Homo sapiens: one gene and its partners. The protein of the gene in region 1 binds, or shares a complex with, the protein of each later gene. Each region holds a gene or a part of one and is shown in the gene's direction. Other genes may lie near its edges.

Region 1 (3,533 bases):
CCATCATGAGAAGCTAGGCATTACCATTCCTGTCTAGTAGGGATACATAGTTGGTTGCGCCTAAGTTGCTTCTGGCAGAACCCAAGGAATAAATTTCTCCATATCGTTTCCTAGTTACCCTAATCTCTGCACAAATTTGTGTGTTACAGAAGCAGATCCAGAGCTTGAATAAAATGTGTTCAAACCTTCTGGAGAAAATCAGCAAAGAGGAGCGAGAATCAGAGAGTGGAGGTATGATGGGACTGGTGGCTAAACAGAGAAGGAGAGGTATATAAGATCACTGGAATGGGAATGGTTGTTTTGGAAGTAGTGAAGTTAGGACACAAGGGTGAACTGCTTTGGGGTTTGTATCCATTCTGTTAGCCTTTTGTATTTAAGGCCAGCACTGAAGCAGTGGAGGAAATGGGCAAAGTAAGAAGAGAGAATTCTGAGATAGGCTTGGGGGTCCTCTGGCTCTTTTTCTGGGCTGTGAGGGAGTCTAGATGTTGCTGAATTCAGAACTCCAAACCCTGGCACTCATACTGGTCTTCCAGCTGCCACGTTCAGTCCTGCATCAGAAGCATACTTCAGGATCCCCATTACTTTTTCTTCAGGTCTCCGGCCGAACAAGCAGACCTTTAACCCTACAGACACTAATGCCTTGGTGGCAGCTGTTGCCTTTGGGAAAGGACTATCTAATTGGAGACCTTCAGGCAGCAGTGGTCCTGGCCAGGCAGGCCAGCCAGGAGCTGGGACGATCCTTGCAGGAACCTCAGGATTACAGCAGGTGCAGATGGCAGGAGCTCCAAGCCAGCAGCAGCCAATGCTCAGTGGGGTACAAATGGCTCAGGCAGGTCAACCAGGTAAGGTGGCAGGGGTTGAAATGAAGCTGACTTTGAGCAGGAGTGGGAGGGAATAAGCTAGATTATCTGGGCCTCCAGCATCTCTAGACCTAGAGGTTTTCTCTATTTCTCCTTTTCACTGTGACCCAGGAAATAATTTTCAGAAGTAAAAAAATCTCATCTGAGACTCTGCAACAGGCACCAGAGAGTGAGGAAGAACTTTGAGTAACAGAAACTGCTCCAATTTCTCATCCGCATCTCACATCTCTGTGTCAACTATCCTTCTATCCCATTTATTCTGGTATTAGATATGTTGTCAGTGTCTCTTGTTAGGTAGAGAAATCAGCAGTCAGATCTTAAGACCATTTGGTAGGTGCATCAGGAATTGACACGCAGGCCAGTTTTCCAGTCCTACATGTATTCTTTTCTCTGTATCCTGCCTCTCTTGCTCTTGGCTTCCTGCCTTCTCTCCTACTCATTTTTAGAACAGTCTAGATGCAGGCAGCTAGAAGAGTTATTTCCTCCAAGCTGTCTAGGAAAAGGGACAATTAAAGAGAGATTCTGCACTTATTATGATATAAAAAAAGAAAAACAATGAGAGAACATAGTACTCTTTTACCTGTGACGTTAAATGGGAGTCACACAGGTTTAGCTATCTGTTCTAGGAGTGGATGAACAGACTATTCTCCCATGTCACTTCTTTCCTCCTGGACACCTTCAGGGAGACAGCTGGGTGAAGAATCATACTTCTGACCTCTGTCAAACAGGGTCAGATGCCGCAGAGGTTCTGAGATGATAAAGGAAGTGACAGAGGGAACCTGAGGTACCACATTTCTGATTTGTCATGAAAGTCTTACCTTGCTTAAGATGACTTTTTTAATGTTCCTTTCAGGGAAAATGCCAAGTGGAATAAAAACCAACATCAAGTCGGCTTCCATGCATCCCTACCAGCGGTGAGTGTGGCTGGCAACCTCGACTCCCTGGTGCTCTTTGCAGAGTTGGGCAGTGAAATTACCTTTTGCTCAAGGCTCACCTAGATGGGTACAATAAAAAGAACATGGGCTTTCAGCAGCAGACAAATCCCACTTCCACCACTGACTAGCTGTGTGACCTTGGACAAGTGACCTAATTTTTCTGAGCCTGTTTCTCATTTGTAAATGGTGATAATACCTACCTCATAGGGTTGTTGTGAGGATTAAAATGAGGAAATGAATGTAAAGCACTTAGTACAGTATATGAAATAATGGGTATTCAATAAATGATAGTTTCTACAGATCCTTCTCCCCACCACCCTCCACAGTCCTTGATCCAGAACTTACCCTAATCTGATACTGCCTCACGTCAATGGTGAGCTGATGGACACAAGATCAAATAAGGCTATGCTTATTTTGTGCTGCCAGAAACTGTAGCAACCTCTGTGTTCTTAGAGGCACACTGTTTTTGCAGGCCCTCCTGCCTGGGTTTCATTCTGGCTATCCCTCTAAGGCGCAAGGTGAAGAAGCTTCTGGGCCAGGAAGGAAAAAAAAATGCCCACCTGCAGCTCTGGTGAAGCTTGGGCCTGCTCTCCTTTCCATCCTCTAAGGAGCCAACTTGGCTTTTACCTGTCAAATAGTCATAAAGTCCCCTATCCTTTACCCCACCTTATACACACGAGGCTTTCTCAGGAAGTGGCTCTGCCAGGCAGGACTATGTGGGAAAGGGTTTTTCCTTAGCACACGAAAAAGCCCCTTCCCCTGGATTCATGTTTCTTATTTTGGAGGGAGAAGGGAATTGCACTTCACACTGCCATCAGGGTTTAGTTGACCTCATAATGGTGCCCACTTTCTCGACTTTGGCCAGGATTTCCTTCAAAGAAAACGACTTTCCTTCATTTCCCTAAGCCTGTGGCCCAAATGGTGGACCAGAATGATGGTGGGAGGGGGCAACCCCCAGTAGCTTTGCCTGCTTTTATAAAGTTGAACAAATTGAATTTAGACATTCAGGCTAACCTGCCTTTCTTAGTACTCCTTTGTTGGCATGGGCAGGGGTTGAGTCAGCAGAAGTGGACCAAAGGATTCCTCTGAATAAAGTTATTTAAATTGATGTTCACTGGCTCAGGGTTGTCTGACAGTAATTTATGAGAGCACTACATAGGGATCAGAGGGGCAGTTTCAAGAGTGCTGCAAGGCAGTTCTAATTTGTTCTCCATAAAAAAGTTTCCGTATCTTTAATTAGCTTTGATCTAAAAATCCTGAAACTTCCCTCCTGCTCATACCTTCCAGCTGCCTTTTTTCTGTTCTGTCACACACTGGTACTTTGGCATTTGTTCAGTGCCAAACAAAGTTCTGCCAGGCTGTGGCAGCAAAGGACTGGAAAAGTGGTCCCAGATGTCACATCTGTTACCATTCCATCAAGGTGAGGAATGGTATCCACAAAGCTCACTGACCACAATACATAGCAGTAGGGGAGTCTGGTCACCAGCTCTAAGGCAATGCCAGACCTTTCCCCCACTTAAACTGTTCCGGCTCATCAGCCCACTCAGGTGTTATCTTCTCACCTCTTCCCTTCCCACTGGAAATGTCAGTATTAACTGGCATATTGGGTAGAGTTTGAGCTGTGCTTCTCTGAAATTCCTGGAGCATCTTTTGGTGACTATTGTCCTTTACTCCACCAAAAGATTCCCTCCTATTGAATGGCACCAACCCCAAGTTTTTTTGTGTCCCAGGCAAATAC
Region 2 (3,749 bases), on another chromosome or scaffold:
CTCCAGGTCAGTGACCTATCTTTTCATGACTCGCTGGCTACTTTTGTTGCCATCCTCATCGCTCGGCAGTGTTTGCTCCTGGAAGATCTGATTCGCTGTGCTGCCATCCCTTCACTCCTTAATGCTGGTGAACTACCAATCTGTAACCCCTAGCATTTCTAGACCTCAAATTTCAATACACACTGGACGGCCATCCTCTCATTGTTCACTGTGGGAGACCTTGCTGCGGCTCCCTGGCCTTCCTCAGAAGGCCAGTCCTTTGGTATGCTGAAGGCTAGAAGAAACCTGTTTTTTAGCCCTGGATTTGCAGCCCTGACCTTTCCAATTTCTGACCCTTCAACTGCGTAACAGTTCTCTGCTCTACCTCGCTTTCAATATTATCTTGCTTTTTCTCCTTTCACTTTACCTCATCTTCTCTCCCATGCCCCTGCCATACACTTGCATGCATGCAGGCACGCACACACATAAACCCACATACAGTTTAACTTCATCCCTTCCAGATCTGTTTTGTCTTCCTTTTAGCTTGTAGTGAACAGGACTCTGAGCCAGGGGCCCGGCTTACCTGCCGCATCCTCCTTCACCTTTTCAAGACACCGCAGCTCAATCCTTGCCAGTCTGATGGAAGTAAGTGACCCTGATCTGAACCAGCCAACAGTAGAAAGTGTGGTTCCCCTGCCTCCGTGGATTCTACTTTTGCTTCCCCTGACTTCATCGCCTTCCCCAGACAAGCCTACAGTAGGAATCCGCTCCTCCTGCGACCGCCACCTGCTGGCTGCCTCCCAGAACCGCATCGTGGATGGAGCCGTGTTTGCTGTTCTCAAGGCTGTGTTTGTACTTGGTACGGGGGTAGGAAGGGAGTGGTGCCAGAAGTGTGTATAGGGTGGAGTGCCAGCTAAACTACAAGGGACAGTCTTTCTCCCTTCTGAAGGTGGTCTCTCTGACCTTTGGGGAGGAGGGGAGGGAGAGAAGTATATTTCTGTCCCATAGGGCAGGATTTGGGGTGTTTCTACCTCTGTGGGCCCAGGGTGGGTCTCCACACGTGTTCCAATCTCACTCTGCCCTCCCTATCTCCCACCCGTGAACCACAGGGGATGCGGAACTGAAAGGTTCAGGCTTCACTGTGACAGGAGGAACAGAAGAACTTCCAGAGGAGGAGGGAGGAGGTGGCAGTGGTGGTCGGAGGCAGGGTGGCCGCAACATCTCTGTGGAGACAGCCAGTCTGGATGTCTATGCCAAGTACGTGCTGCGCAGCATCTGCCAACAGGTCAGTTTCACCTTCCTCCCACACCTCCTAAATGCCTCTGTGTAATATAGTTCTGTTTCCAGCCCATGATCACACCAGCTCCCTACTATACATTGTGTTCCTTAACAACTCCAGCCCATCCCCCATATTCCTAACCCCCTCACTGGTTGTTCCCAGTCCCTGATTGTCAGCTTCCTCAGGAATGGGTAGGAGAACGTTGCCTTAAGTCTCTGTGTGAGGACAGCAATGACCTGCAAGACCCAGTGTTGAGTAGTGCCCAGGCGCAGCGCCTCATGCAGCTCATTTGCTATCCACATCGACTGCTGGACAATGAGGATGGGGAAAACCCCCAGCGGCAGCGCATAAAGCGCATTCTCCAGGTAGGCCAAGGCCGTGGGGGCTGTGGAGGAAGCAGTGGGCCCAATCTGGGGAGAAACAATAGGAACCTTGAGAAAAGGAGAGGGGCAGTTAAGTAGAGAGGAAGACAAACAAGGATATAGGGGAGGGGAGAGGTAGCGAGAGAAACAGCTCCAGCATGGGCTGAGGAGTAAGTCCAGTAGGGTCTAGACTCCAGTGTAAGAGTATTAGGTGAGGGCATAGCTATCTGGAGTGAATCTAGCTTATCAATGGGAAGCATAGCATCTGGGAGGCCTAGGTGTGGGCCGTGTATATTTGGCATTTTGGCCATGGCTCAGGAACTGAATAGTAATAGCTACTACTTGCTGAGCATGTGCTTTGTGCCAGGTACTGTGCTAGGCACTCTGCACACATTTCCTCATTTAATCTTTATGACCCTATGAAGTAGGTGAGCCTCCCTGTTTGACCGATGAGGAAACTGAGGCTTGAAGAGGTTAAGTAACTTGTCTAACGTCACATAGCCCATAAGTTTAGAGTCAATATGTGAACCCAGACATGTCTGTGCACTTTCCTCTTCACATTGCTTCACACCTTCAGATGACCAGAGAGTGGAAAAATAAAGCCGTTGAGGAAAAGCTAAAGGAATAAGGTCTCTTCAGCCCAGAAGAGATAGTGTTGAAGAGAGATTAGCTAACAGTAGCCTTCTGGTCTCTACAGGACTTTGAGAGATTGTCTTATAAAGGTTCTGTCAGGGACTTTGAGCAGCTGGTCTAAAACAAGAGAAGCAGGCTTCAACTTTAACATCAAGGGTTTCAAGGTTAAGCATTAAGCAGAACTTCCTGATACGAAGGGATGGGAAAGATGTGAAATCTTTCCTGAACTATTTTAAAAATTGGAAAGATTTTCAACTAGTTTGGACTATTTAAATGTAGTCTTTTTTTTTTTTTTTTTTTTGAGACGGAGTCTCGCTCTTGTCGCTCAGGCTGGAGTACAGTGGTGCGATCTCGGCTCACTGCAACCTCTGCCTCCCAAGTTCAAACAATTCTCCTGCCTCAGCCTCCTGAGTAACTGGGATTACAGGTCGCCCATCACCACGCCCAGCTAATTTTTGTATTTTTAGTAGAGATGGGGTTTTGCCATGTTGGCCAGGCTGGTCTTGAACTCCTGACCTCAGGTGATCCGCCTGTCTCAGCCTCCCTAAATGTAGTCTTTCTTAAAGATGGGGACATAGAGGTCCCTTTCAGACCTCCAGGAGTCTGTGATTCAATGTTGCAGGAGATCAGGAATTGGCCTCAGATTGTTGGGTAGCTGGGGGTAACACGATGATGACTAGCCTGGGTGTGGGGCCTCTATCACAGAACTTGGACCAGTGGACCATGCGCCAGTCTTCCTTGGAGCTGCAGCTCATGATCAAGCAGACCCCTAACAATGTGAGTAGTGCCTGGACCCTCCCTTTCCTGTGCTCACGTTCAGCTCCATGTGTCAGGGAGGCGGTCCACCACAGAAGAACCTAGATCCTACCCTTGGGCTCTTGAGCTGAGAGATAAGAGGGGATGGGAAAATGGTGAACAAGTGGAGCTGATGATAAGGGAAATGGGTTGAGAGTGTTGGAGCTCTGAGCTGTGGGGAAGCTTGGTGGTGGTGGTGGAGCCTGTTTCTCTGGCCATAGATGTAAGGAGGTATGTAAAGGAGAAGACAGTGAGGAATTGGAGAAATATGGAGGTACTAGAGGGCATGATTCCCAACAGAGTTGCGTTCCTATCTCCCCATCAATCTCCGCCAGTGTTGTCCTTCTCCGTCATCTCCGATCTCTCCTACCATCTGCTTTCCTTCACCCTTAGCTACCTATTTTAGCACTTCTGTGCCTTTCATCCTCCCCAGGAGATGAACTCCCTCTTGGAGAACATCGCCAAGGCCACAATCGAGGTTTTCCAACAGTCAGCAGAGACAGGGTCATCTTCTGGAAGTACTGCAAGCAACATGCCCAGCAGCAGCAAGACCAAGCCTGTGCTCAGGTCGGATAGAAACATGTTAGGACCCATCCCCTTAGGAGTTTATCTGCTGGTAGCGTGAGTGATATCAGATGCGTGGAGATGCCAGCATGTCCATCAGGGAAAGGAGAGGATAGATTGTTCCAGCCTTGCCTGGC
Region 3 (3,749 bases), on another chromosome or scaffold:
GCTCATGCCTGTAATCGTAACACTTTGGGAGGCCAACGTGGGTGGATTGCCTGAGCTCAAGTTCGAGACCAGCCTGGGCAACATAGTGAAACTCTGTCTCTACTAAAATACAAAAAAATTAGCTGGGTGGTGTGGCATACACCTGTAGTCCCAGCTACTTGGGAGGCTGAGGCAGAAGAATTGCTTGAACCCAGGAGGCGGGGGTTGCAGTGAGCCGAGATTGTGCCACTGCACTCCAGCCTTGGCGACAGAGCGAGACACTGTCTCAAAAAAAAAAAAAAAAAAAAAAAAAAAAAAAGAGTCCTTTGGCGCCTCCTTCAAAGCTTAGTCACTTACAATTTGCCCATTGTACCCATTTTCCTATGTATACTGTTCCTATATGTACCTTGAATACTTTTCTTGTTTAATGACATGGCTTTCTTTTTTTTTTTCAGACTCCGTCTTGCTCTTATTGCCCAGACTGGAGTGCGATGACACGATCTTGGCTCACTGCAACCTCCACTTCCCGGATTGAAGCGATTCTCCTGCCTCAGCCTCCCCAGTAGCTGGGATTACAGGCATGTGTCACCACACCCGGCTAATTTTTTGTATTTTTAGTAGAAATGGGGTTTCACCATTTTGGCCAGGCTGGTCTCGACCTCCTGATCTCAAGTACCTGCCTCAGCCTCCCAAAGGACATTGCTCTCTTATCTTCTAGAGTAGAACTTTTCCAATGGTGTCTCTCATCTGCATTTTCAGATGACAAATGATAACTTCTCATTCCATTCTGTAACCAGAAGTTAGTAAAGTTTATTTATAAGCTTTATAAAGTTAAAAATTTCCTAGCAACACTTAGTACAGACTTTTTTTTTTATTTGTATAGAGTTTCCATGATAAAGTGTAGTTGGGTATCTGGCATTGGTACTTAGGGCATAATAATTAATGAAAAAATTTTGAGCCCCTATGATTATAGTGACCAATCATATTTTCGGAACTCTAAATAAGATTAGCCTATCAAGCGCTAGGGTTGTGTTTTCATGTTTGTTTATTTGTCTGAGACAGAGTCTTGCTCTGCCACCCAGGCTGGAGTGCAGTAGCATGATCTCGGCTCACTGCAACCTCTGCCTCCCAGGTTCAAGCGCTTCTCCTGCTTCAGCCTCCTGAGTAGCTCCGCGACCAGCCGTGTTTTCATGTTTGTATTAGCAGCTCCAAATATACACATATTAGGACTCCACAGATGCTTACTAAGTGAAGAACACTTAGTTTGAGGATAGTAAAGGATACAGTTTTTTCTTTTTGAGACAGTCTCACTCTGTCACCCAGGTTGGAGTGCAGTGACGCGATCTCTGCTCACTGCAACTTTCGCTTCACGGGTTCCAGAGATTCTCCTGCTTCAGCCTCCCGAGTAGCTGGGATTACAGGAGCGCACCACCACACCTGGCTAATTTTTGTATTTTTCGTAGAGACGGAGTTTTACCATGTTAGCCAGGCTGGTCTCAAACTCCTGACCTGATGATCCACCTACCTTGGCCTCCCAAAGTGCTGGGATTACAGGCATGAGCCACTGCGCCTAGCCAGAAATAGTTTTGAAACTAAAAAAATGAGAAAAGGGGAATTAACTGTGCTATAGGCTCGCTTTGAACGTCATGTTACAATGCGCCACTATCTTTCTTAGGATGTAATTATTGCATCTAGTATCTCAGGTTAAACTTATCTTTCATAAGACACTCCTGATACCAATAGCCTTTGAAAATCTAGTCATGGCCGGGTGTGGTGGCTCATGCCTGTAATCCCAGCACTTTGGGAGGCCGAGGCGGGCGGACAGCGAGGTCAGGAGTTCGAGACCAGCCTGGCCAACACGGCGAAACCCCGTCTCTACTAAAAATAGCTGGGCGTGGTGGCGGGTGCCTGTAATCCCAGCTACTCGGGAGGCTGAGGCAGGAGAATCGCTTGAACCCGGGAGGCGGAGGTTGCAGTGAGCCGACATCGTGCCATTGCACTCCAGCCTGGGCGACAAGAGCAAGACTCCATCTCAAAAAAAAAAAAAAAAAAATTAAAAAAAAAAGAAAAGCTAGTCTTTCAGTACAGGGATCTGGAGATTTTAATTTGCGAGCTGTTTAACTGCTAAAATAAAAAAAAAATGGCGGTTTCCGCAGGGGAGCCGAAAGCTACCGGCCGGCAGGTTTAATATCCAGCGGCGCGAGGCCTGAGACAGCTCAGATCAAAGGGAAGACTGCGCTGAAAGAAATCTCGCGAGGCCGACGCATTGACCAATATTCGCGAGATTTCGATGCCCTGTCCTCTTCCTCTCTCTGGCAGGACCACGGTTTATCTCGCGAATTTTGGGAAGTTCCGTTGGGGAAGATGGCGGCGGCCTCGAGCACCCTTCTCTTCTTGCCGCCGGGGACTTCAGATTGATCCTTCCCGGGAAGAGTAGGGACTGCTGGTGCCCTGCGTCCCGGGATCCCGAGCCAACTTGTTTCCTCCGTTAGTGGTGGGGAAGGGCTTATCCTTTTGTGGCGGATCTAGCTTCTCCTCGCCTTCAGGATGAAAGCTCAGGGGGAAACCGAGGGTAAGTGACTGTAGGGGAAAGGAGGGGGCGGGACACAACTGGGGGAGCCAGTTTGTGAGAGGAGGTTCTTGCAGATGTCCCATGGGGGCCACTTTAGGGGCATAGAGTCCAGGAGAGGGAATGTGTATTAGTTTTAGATTGTCACTATACCCTCCTTGGTGATTATAGAGCTTCGACTTTAGGGCGATGGGGACTCTCAACTTCTGTGAAGATTTCATGCTCGACTAGGGCACTTTTGGCCTAAAGTGGTGGGAGACGGGGCAAATGAATACAAAATCAGCTTACATCTCGTTCCAGAAGAGACGCCTGAATAAATTTAGGGCTGTGTGTAAACGTACTGGAGACTATTTTGGCATCAATGAAATGATTAGGTCCTTATATTTATTAGCAGCCAGCAGTTCTCTACAATGTCAAGTGTTCAGATCCTGTGCCATTGTGTATTTTTAAAGTGCGCTGAATTTCGTTCTTTTATTGACCGAACTACGAACTGCAGAAAAACAACTTTTCTGTGGAACTTTACTAAGATTTTCTAAAGTTCCACACTCCGGCTAAGATGCTGCCTTAGCATTTTGGGCATAGTTCTGTTGATACAGTGAACTGTGTTATTGTTTATCTTCTCCAGTTTCCTCTGAGCTTTGCAGATTAGAGTCCTTGCCTGATTATTTTTGTATAGTTTCTGGCACGTAATAGTCGCTCAAAAAGTGTTGGAGCATCGAAGTACAGATATTTATCAGCAGGTTTCTCAAGAAAAACAAAGAGTGTGTTTTGGAGCAGAGGTCGAAAGGTGAGGCCGGGAGCAGTGACTCACACCTGTAATCCCAGCGCTTTGGGAGGCTGCGGCTGGAGGATCCCTGGAGCCCAGGAGTTCGCGACCAGCCTGGGCAACATACTGAGGCCCTGTCTCTACAAAAAAAATAAAAAAATTGCCGGGCACTGTGGCTCACGCGTGTAATCCCAGCACTTTGGGAGGTTGAGGCGGGTGGATCACCTGAGGTTGGGAGATCGAGACCAGCCTGACCAACATGGAGAAAACCCGTCTCTACTAGAAATACAAAATTAGCCGGGCGTGGTGGTGAATGCCTGTAATCCCAGCTACCTGGGAGGCTGAGGTGGGAGGATTGCTTCAACCCAGGAGGTGGAGGTTGTGGTGAGCCAAGACTGCGCCATTGCATTCCTACCTGGGCTACAAGAGCGAAAC

The links.
Region 2: MED8 (region 1) and MED12 share a complex: the UniProt entries of both Homo sapiens proteins name them as parts of the mediator complex.
Region 3: MED8 (region 1) and MED1 share a complex: the UniProt entries of both Homo sapiens proteins name them as parts of the mediator complex.

Annotation. Positions count from the first base shown.
Region 1 is NC_000001.11:43,383,287-43,386,819, reverse strand, and holds the end of MED8 (mediator of RNA polymerase II transcription subunit 8), read left to right. Parts: intron 1-149; coding exon 150-231; intron 232-593; coding exon 594-842; intron 843-1,093; exon of another isoform or gene 1,094-1,536; intron 1,537-1,678; exon of another isoform or gene 1,679-1,713; coding exon 1,714-1,778; 3' UTR 1,779-2,267; coding exon of another isoform or gene 2,268-2,370; 3' UTR 2,371-2,903; downstream 2,904-3,533. UniProt on the Homo sapiens protein: Component of the Mediator complex, a coactivator involved in the regulated transcription of nearly all RNA polymerase II-dependent genes.
Region 2 is NC_000023.11:71,128,592-71,132,340, forward strand, and holds part of MED12 (mediator of RNA polymerase II transcription subunit 12), read left to right. Parts: intron 1-6; coding exon 7-127; intron 128-522; coding exon 523-624; intron 625-724; coding exon 725-838; intron 839-1,088; coding exon 1,089-1,264; intron 1,265-1,443; coding exon 1,444-1,623; intron 1,624-2,958; coding exon 2,959-3,030; intron 3,031-3,481; coding exon 3,482-3,615; intron 3,616-3,749. UniProt on the Homo sapiens protein: Component of the Mediator complex, a coactivator involved in the regulated transcription of nearly all RNA polymerase II-dependent genes.
Region 3 is NC_000017.11:39,449,840-39,453,588, reverse strand, and holds the start of MED1 (mediator of RNA polymerase II transcription subunit 1), read left to right. Parts: upstream 1-2,325; 5' UTR 2,326-2,526; coding exon 2,527-2,551; intron 2,552-3,749. UniProt on the Homo sapiens protein: Component of the Mediator complex, a coactivator involved in the regulated transcription of nearly all RNA polymerase II-dependent genes.